Homo sapiens: one gene and its partner. The protein of the gene in region 1 purifies or fractionates together with the protein of each later gene. This does not show direct contact. Each region holds a gene or a part of one and is shown on either strand. Other genes may lie near its edges. The genes, in order: LSM11 and TOP3A.

What was found.
Region 2: the proteins of LSM11 (region 1) and TOP3A fractionate together in Homo sapiens (co-fractionation; one large-scale study listed by BioGRID). This does not show direct contact.

What each region holds. Positions count from the first base shown.
Region 1 is NC_000005.10:157,746,441-157,750,260, forward strand, and holds part of LSM11 (U7 snRNA-associated Sm-like protein LSm11), read left to right. Parts: intron 1-3,820. UniProt on the Homo sapiens protein: Component of the U7 snRNP complex that is involved in the histone 3'-end pre-mRNA processing. Increases U7 snRNA levels but not histone 3'-end pre-mRNA processing activity, when overexpressed. Required for cell cycle progression from G1 to S phases.
Region 2 is NC_000017.11:18,304,675-18,308,494, reverse strand, and holds part of TOP3A (DNA topoisomerase 3-alpha), read left to right. Parts: intron 1-70; coding exon 71-144; exon of another isoform or gene 145-182; intron 183-999; exon of another isoform or gene 1,000-1,022; intron 1,023-1,528; coding exon 1,529-1,604; intron 1,605-3,274; coding exon 3,275-3,383; intron 3,384-3,820. UniProt on the Homo sapiens protein: Releases the supercoiling and torsional tension of DNA introduced during the DNA replication and transcription by transiently cleaving and rejoining one strand of the DNA duplex.

The DNA of each region.
Region 1 (3,820 bases):
AGTTACCCATCCAAATTCACAGAGAGGACAGTGTGGAATGTTTATGAAAAAACAAGGAGTGCAAAATTAAGTGTAATGGTGTTTTAACTGTAAAATATTTCACTTTGTATCTCTGTCATAGAATCTCTTTGAATTCCCTTGTGGAGCAGTTGTATTCTTTTCCTTGCAGTAATAAAATTTTAAAAGTAGCCAGGCACAGTGGCTCACACCTGTAATCCCAGCACTTTGGGAGGCCGAGGCGGGCAGAACACTTGAGGCCAGGAGTTCAAGACCAGCCTGGCCAACGTGGTGAAACCCTGTCTCTACTAAAAATACAAAAATTAGTTGGGCATGGCAGCATCTGCCTCTAGTTCCAGCTGTTCAGGAGGATGAGGCACGAGAATCGCTTGAACCCTGTAAGTGGAAGCTGCAGTGAGCCGAGATCATAGGGACATCATAGAGACCTCTACAGAGGTGATACGAGGTCTCAAAAAAAAGTAATAATAAAAGTATAGGAGGCTGTTGCAATACTGGGAATACTAAAGAAGAAAAAAAGCATAGGAGGAAAGGTTTTTCGTCATCATTAAGCCTAAGCCATCACTGATACCAACAAAGAACTCACACACAAGCTGTACTTGCAAGTGGAATGCAATTGCTTTTCCTCCTTTTTAATATTGACATGCCTATAGAGATGGTAAGACAAGACTAAAGAGCATTATCCTCTTTTCCACATAATTCTAGTGTCTATATTTCTCCTTAGTATCGCAGCACCATACCTAGCCCACGGTGGTTCTGGTTTATAATTGTGCTTCAAGCAAGCTTTTTCTAGGTATATCTGTCACTGTGAAATGAACTGGTGTGTTCAAGCTCACGTCTTGACATTATAAAGCTGTAAGAAAAAGTGTTATCATTACTTTGTTTTAGCTACAGGTGTGTTGGTGTGCAGCCTGTGCCGGTGTGAACAAGTGTGTGTGGTCAATCCAAAATGCATATGACATGCAGGGTTTGGCTCCTAGACCATTGTCTAGGTGAATGGCTTGTCTCCAGTTCCAAATTCAGTTTTCCTGCAGGGAGCCTACACAGTCCTTTTACTCGCACACATCCTGCTGAGAAGGATTTCAAAACAAACCTGATTTATTGGGCCTCTGACGTGATACCATGATTGAAAATTTGTTTGAGTCCTGTTGTTGTAGTTTACTTTGATTGCTGAAATAATTTCCCACAATATGGTGTCTTGATGTTTTCATTTTAATAAAGTGATATTCTTTGGATAACTTTGACTTCACTTCCTGCAAATAAAGAGCAAGAAAATAGGCAAAATCAAGAACATCTGAGCCCTGTGTACAGCAGTAAAATGAACTCTCAAATTTGAACAGCATCTCTGTTACACAGAGGTTGCCAAAAGGGCATGAGTATGACTTACATAAAACCGAGAACAGCGGTACTTAGGCTTCAGAAAAGGCCAAGCTTAAAATTCAGCCTTGTCACTTTTCTCAGCTCATTGCAGCTGTTTCCAGTCAGCTGTCTCCAGTGCAACTAAGGAATAGTCTCAGATGATTTCTGCACCACACTGCTGTGTGTGTGTGTGTGTGTGTGTGTGTGTGTGTGTTTAGGCCAGTTTGACATAGCATCACAATAGGGAAGACACTGATGTGCCTTTGCCGGGTCACTGATTCAAACATTGTACTTTCAATCTGTCATGGCACCCTTCTATAGAATGGCAACTAAAACTATTTTCAGAGAAAAGAGAAAATATTTTTCCATTGCAGACTCATAAGGTGACTGTTACAGTTTGTGGTTTCATTTCTCTGGGCCCTTAATAGGTTATGGAATCTGGGGAGCTGCCTTTGCCCTAATGAGCTAATAACTTTGTATATTTGGAGATATATATGTAGATACAGTTTTGTCCTTAAATCTTTGAATAGGTAGTTGTGGAGGCTAAAGCAACTCCATCTTGAATGCCAGTCCACCATGTTGACTTCTGATTAAACCCAGTTCTGGGAAGGCCTCTAAGATTTCCAATTTATCTGTTGTTTCTTGTGTAAGAGCATGTACTTACTGTAATTCCTGTCCTTACATGAGAACAACCTTGACGTTATCTTACTTCAATTGTCCTACACATCCCTTCTGAATCACCCTTTCCCTGTAGCATATAAGCCCTGCATCTGGGGGTCATGGCACGGGGATCCACCATCTTGTTTTGCCGCCACCTGAGACGCAGACGTGGCTTCTGTTCCTACATTCCTATTAAATATTTCTTTCTAAGGAAAACAAGAGTTACTGTAAGAGGCAAGTTTTAGGTCTTTAAAGAAGGGCATGATTGAGAACAGTTATTTTAAAATCAGGCTGTGATGGTATAATTTACATGTAGCAGGAGAAGGAAGAGTGGAGCTGAAAATGACCTGGATCTGGAAGGATGTGGCAATAGAGAAGGGGATTGGAAGAGTAACTTTCTCCAAAGATAAGGCATATGCTTTTTTGTCATATTTGGTCATAGAAACCTGACTCATATCCATTTGGAGCTTGCCACAGAGACGGCTGGAAAGAGAATGTGCACTCTGATTCAGAATGGGGAGCTCATTTTTGCCTTGGCGGTTTGCTCTGATAGGTGGTGCTAGTGTCGTACTTTTGATCACACAAGGATACAAGGAGAGCAATGCTTCCTGGAATTACACCTTATTAAATCTTTGGAAGAAAAAAATTAAAGGTACACGTTTGAGAAAGACCAATTGAAAGACCTGAATTTGCCATCTATTTAATTAGAGTAAGAGACTGTTGCTAAGATACCTGCTTGCCCTTTCTATTTTTGGAGGTGTGGGAAAGAAGTAATGTCCCTGTTTTTTTCCAAGTTAGAAAAAAATAGTCTTTCCACTCTTTGTATAAACATACATCATAGGGCAGGGGGCAGTATATATGTATGTGTAGGAAAAGAAATAATGCAAGCATGTGATCAGTTTCTAAGAAATTGAGTTATTGGGACTTAGTCCTGAAATAAATCTACAAGTTAACTATCTTAACCTCATTTTATGAATGAGGAAATTTGGAACTTAAAGAAAAAGTTATTCATCAGGTTCACACAACTAGTTATAATGACCTGAAAATTGTTTACAATGCTTGAATGCTTGATTTAATATGGCCTATAACACATATACACGCGCGCGCACGCGCGCACACACACACACACACACCCACACACCCATACACACCCTTAGCTAGCAAATGTACAAAGGACTTTAAAATACTGCTAGAAGAGAGGTAAATGATGATGGTCAGACCAGAATTCTCATGGTCTTTTCCAAAGTCACTGCTTCGTGTCGCTTCCAACTCCGAGTTATTCTCACACCGTTAATCTGACATAAACTCCTGCTAGTCTGCTAAGTCATTTTCTTCTAAGAATCTTTTATTAATTTATCACAGCCATCATTTATAAGCCAATCCATGACAGAGGGATAAGGTGGCTTCAGGAGGAACCAATTTAGTTATCCAAACTGAAGTGCAGGACTGTTGTTCTCCTTTATGTCACTAGAAACAAAGCAGGAGAGATTTTTCATTTGTCTACTGTCAATGCCAAATACTCTATATATCCAGACTTCTAAGACCTGACCAAAAATAAACTTTCTACAGAATTTTGCGTTGCAAACTTGGGAAAGAGTGAGACTGTGTACGCACGAGAAAGAGAGAGAGATTGGGGGTGCGTAGTGCGTGCCTGTAGTCCCAGCTACTCAGTGGGTTGAGCTAGGGGGATCGCTTGAGCCAGGGAGGTCAAGGCTGGAGTGAGCTGTGATTGTGCCACTGCACTCCAGCCTGGGTGACAGTGAGACCCTGTCTCAGGAAAAAAGAA
Region 2 (3,820 bases), on another chromosome or scaffold:
CATTTTAATGATTTGGCAGAATAATAACTGCAAAAAGACTAACTGAATTTTGAATTTTGTCATCATTCAGAATGTTACCATGGTAATGACTTCAGTTTCTGGACATTTACTGGCTCATGATTTCCAGATGCAGTTTCGAAAATGGTCAGTACAATTCTCAAGGGAAGGACTTTCAGATTATAGTAAGTTGTGAAATTTCACAGGAATTTTGAGGCATGTTGATCTTACTGGGTAATTTTTTTTTTTTTTTTTTTTTTTTTTTTTTTTTTTTGTTGGAGACAAAGTTTCAGAGTGAGACTCTGTCTCCCAGGCTGGAGTGCAGTGGTGTGATCTCGGCTCACAGCAACCTCTGCCTCCTGGGTTCGAGTGATTCTCCTGCCTCACCCTCCCGAGTAGCTGGGACTATAGGCACGTGCCACCACACCTGGCTAGTTTTTGTATTTTTAGTAGAGACAGGGTTTCACCATGTTGACCAGGCTGGTCTCGAACTCCTGACCTCAGGTGGTCTGCCCACCTCAGCCTCCTGAAGTGCTGGGATTACAGACCGTGAGCCACCATGCCCGGTTTTTTTTTTTTTTTTTTTTTGAGTCAGGGTCTCGCTGCGTTACCCAGGCTGGAGTGCAGTGGCGCAATCTCGTCTCACTGCAACCTCCGCCTCCTGGGTTCAAGCGATTCTCATGCCTCAGTTTCCCAAGTAACTGGCCTTACAGCCATGTGCCACTACACCCAGCTAATTTTTTCTATTTTAGTAGAGATGGAGTTTCACCCTGTTGCCCAGGCTGGTCTTAAACAAAGCAGGGTTTGCCTTCTTTTGCCTCCCAAAGTGCTAGGATTACAGGCGTGAGCCACTGTGCCTTGGTAATTTATTTATTTATTTATTTATTTTATTTATTTTTTGAGACGGAGTTTTATTCTGTCGCCTAGGCTGGAGTGCAGTGGCACAATCTTGACTCATTGTAACCTCCACCTCCCGGGTTCAAGCGATTCTCCTGCCTCAGACTCCCGAGTAGCTGGGACTACAGGTGCCTGCCACCACGCTTGGCTAATTTTTCGTATTTTTAGTAGAGACGGGGTTTCACCGTGTTAGCCAGGCTAGTCTCGATCTCCTGACCTCGTGATCCACCCACCTTGGCCTCCCAACGTGCTGGGATTACAGGCGTGAGCTACCACGCCCAGCAGTAATTTATAATACTAAGATGACCTAGGATTATCTGATCCATTGTGAATTTTTATTAAATCTTTAAACAGTCACTTTTGGTGTTCCTCAAAATTGCCAGACCTTTTTCATGCAGCCATTGGATTGCATTTACCTGTGAAAGGGCTCCAGAATGCCATCTTATCAGTCCTGTTCACACTCTTGGAGAAGTGGACAGTGTGTCATGCAGAGGGTCATAGCCTTACTTTCAATTCACCGGGACCTTTTCTTTTGGGGATACACCATGAACCCATTGGAACAGTTTGCTGTCATTAGATTGGAGGGCTCTCTGTCATGTACTGAGTTGGGACTCTGTTTTCATTTCTTTTCTAGGCAGAGCTGCAACCCTCTTGTCCTCTTTGAAGCAGAAATTGAAAAGTACTGCCCAGAGAATTTTGTAGACATCAAGGTAGGGTCTTTTGGAAGACATATGGCACTGAGTCAAACCACAGAGTCAAACAGAGTGATTTCTTTGTTTTTAATGCATTGGCATTTGGAGATAAGGTTTTCCACCAAAGTCACTACCATGATTTAAAAAGCTGGTTCCCACCCATTGTATAAATGTGGCTAAGTGGCCAAGGGACTGAAGTAAACTTTTTTTATGAATGGTAGTTGTTTAAATCCTAGGAATAAAGGCTGGACATGGTGGTTTATGCCTGTAATCCCAGCAATTTGTGGGGCCAAGGCAGGATCACATGAACTCCAGGAATTTGAGACCAGCCTGGGCAACATAGTGAGACCCTATCTCTCAAAAAAAAAAAAAAATTTAACCAGGCATGGTGATGTATGCCTATAGTCCCAGCTACTAGTAAGGCTGAGGAAGGAGGATTACTTGATCCCAGGAGGCAGGAGGTTGAGGCTGCAGTGAGCCGTAATCACACCACCACACTCCAGCCTGGTGAGAAAGTGAGACCCTATCAAAAAATAATCCTAAGTATTGTAAATTATTAGCGCGTAGCCCCCATCTCACCCCTTGTTAGATGAAAGAGGCTACAAAGTATAAATGCCTGTTTGACAGTAAATTGCCAGTTGTCAAGCAGTCAGGGCATGTATAGTTAATTTATTTTTAATTTTTATTTATTTATTTATTTATTTTTTGAGACGAAGTCTCGCTCTTGTCCCCCAGGCTGGAGTATGATGGTGCAATCTCAGCTCACTGCAACCTCTGCCTCCAGGTTCAAGCGATTCTCTTGCCTTAGCCTCTCAAGTAGCTGAGATTACAGGCGCCTGCCACCACACCCGGCTAATTTGTGCATTTTTAACAGAGATGGGGTTTCACCATGTTGGCCAGGCTGGTCTCGAACTCCTGACCTCACGTGATCCACCCGCCTCAGCCTCCTAAAGTTTTGGGATTACAGGTGTGAGCCACCGAGCCTGGCCAGTTAATTTATTGAGAACTGATAAAACTTTGGATGAAATTCAATTGGGATTCATTTTGTTTTGTTTTGTTTTGTTTTGTTTTGAGATGGAGTCTTGCTCTGTCACCCAGGCTGGACTGCAGTGGTGCGATCTCGACTCACTGCAAGCTGCGCCTCCCGGGTTCATGCCATTCTCCTGCCTCAGCTTCCCGAGTAGCTGGGACTACAGGTGCCTGCCACCATGCCCGGCTAATTTTTTGTATTTTTAGTAGAGACAGGGTTTCACCGTGTTAACCAGGATGGTCTCGATCTCCTGACCTCGTGATCCACCCACCTCGGCCTCCCAAAGTGCTGGGATTACAGGCGTGAGCCACCACGCCCAGCCGGCTTCGTTTTTTTTAACTAGGTCATAATCAGAACCTCTCGAAGTGTGCGTGCGCGCGCGCGCGCGCGCGTGTGTGTGTGTTAGAGCTGAATTTCAGGTTTTGTCATATTGGGGAAGTTATATTAAACCCTCTATTCTAGAAACTCGTTTATGGTTCTAAGGGGTTGTATCATGATTAGCACCAATGAGAGCAGTTTTCTCTGTTCTCTTTCCCTTGCCAAGTTGTCACACTCCAAGAGCAGCATTAACCTTCAGTCAGATCCCCTTAGCTTAGAGATGTCAAGTCACTGTTGTGCAATTCTGTTCTCACCACTCTTATTCCACTGCGAACTTAAGAAAACTTTGGAACGAGAGACTCGCCAGTGCCAGGCTCTGGTGATCTGGACTGACTGTGATAGAGAAGGCGAAAACATCGGGTTTGAGATTATCCACGTGTGTAAGGCTGGTAAGTGCTGCTGCTGCTGCTGACTTTCTCTACTTTGGAACTCCATAAATAGAGTGTTCTTGTTTATATGTGCACATGGGCCACGGATGAGGTCCTCTGCAGGTACTCTCCCTCCCAGTCTGTGAGTCCCACCAGCCATGTGTCCTGGAGCAAATCACTGAGCCATTGGGAGCCTCAACTTCCTTGTCTCTAACATCAGGCCAATCTGACATGTTTCCTGGGACTGCCACAGAGATTAGATGAGTTAATGAGTGGTGTAAACCATTTAGCCCAGGACTCATTTCTTGTTAGGTACAAGCATACAAGCAGATACCCGGCTCCTTGAGAACAGGGACTTTATATTCTTTTTGTTGTTGTTGTTGTTGTTATATATTGAATTCTTTTAGTATTTGGTTAATGGAAGCAAAAATAGAAAAATAAAATTACATATTGAATAT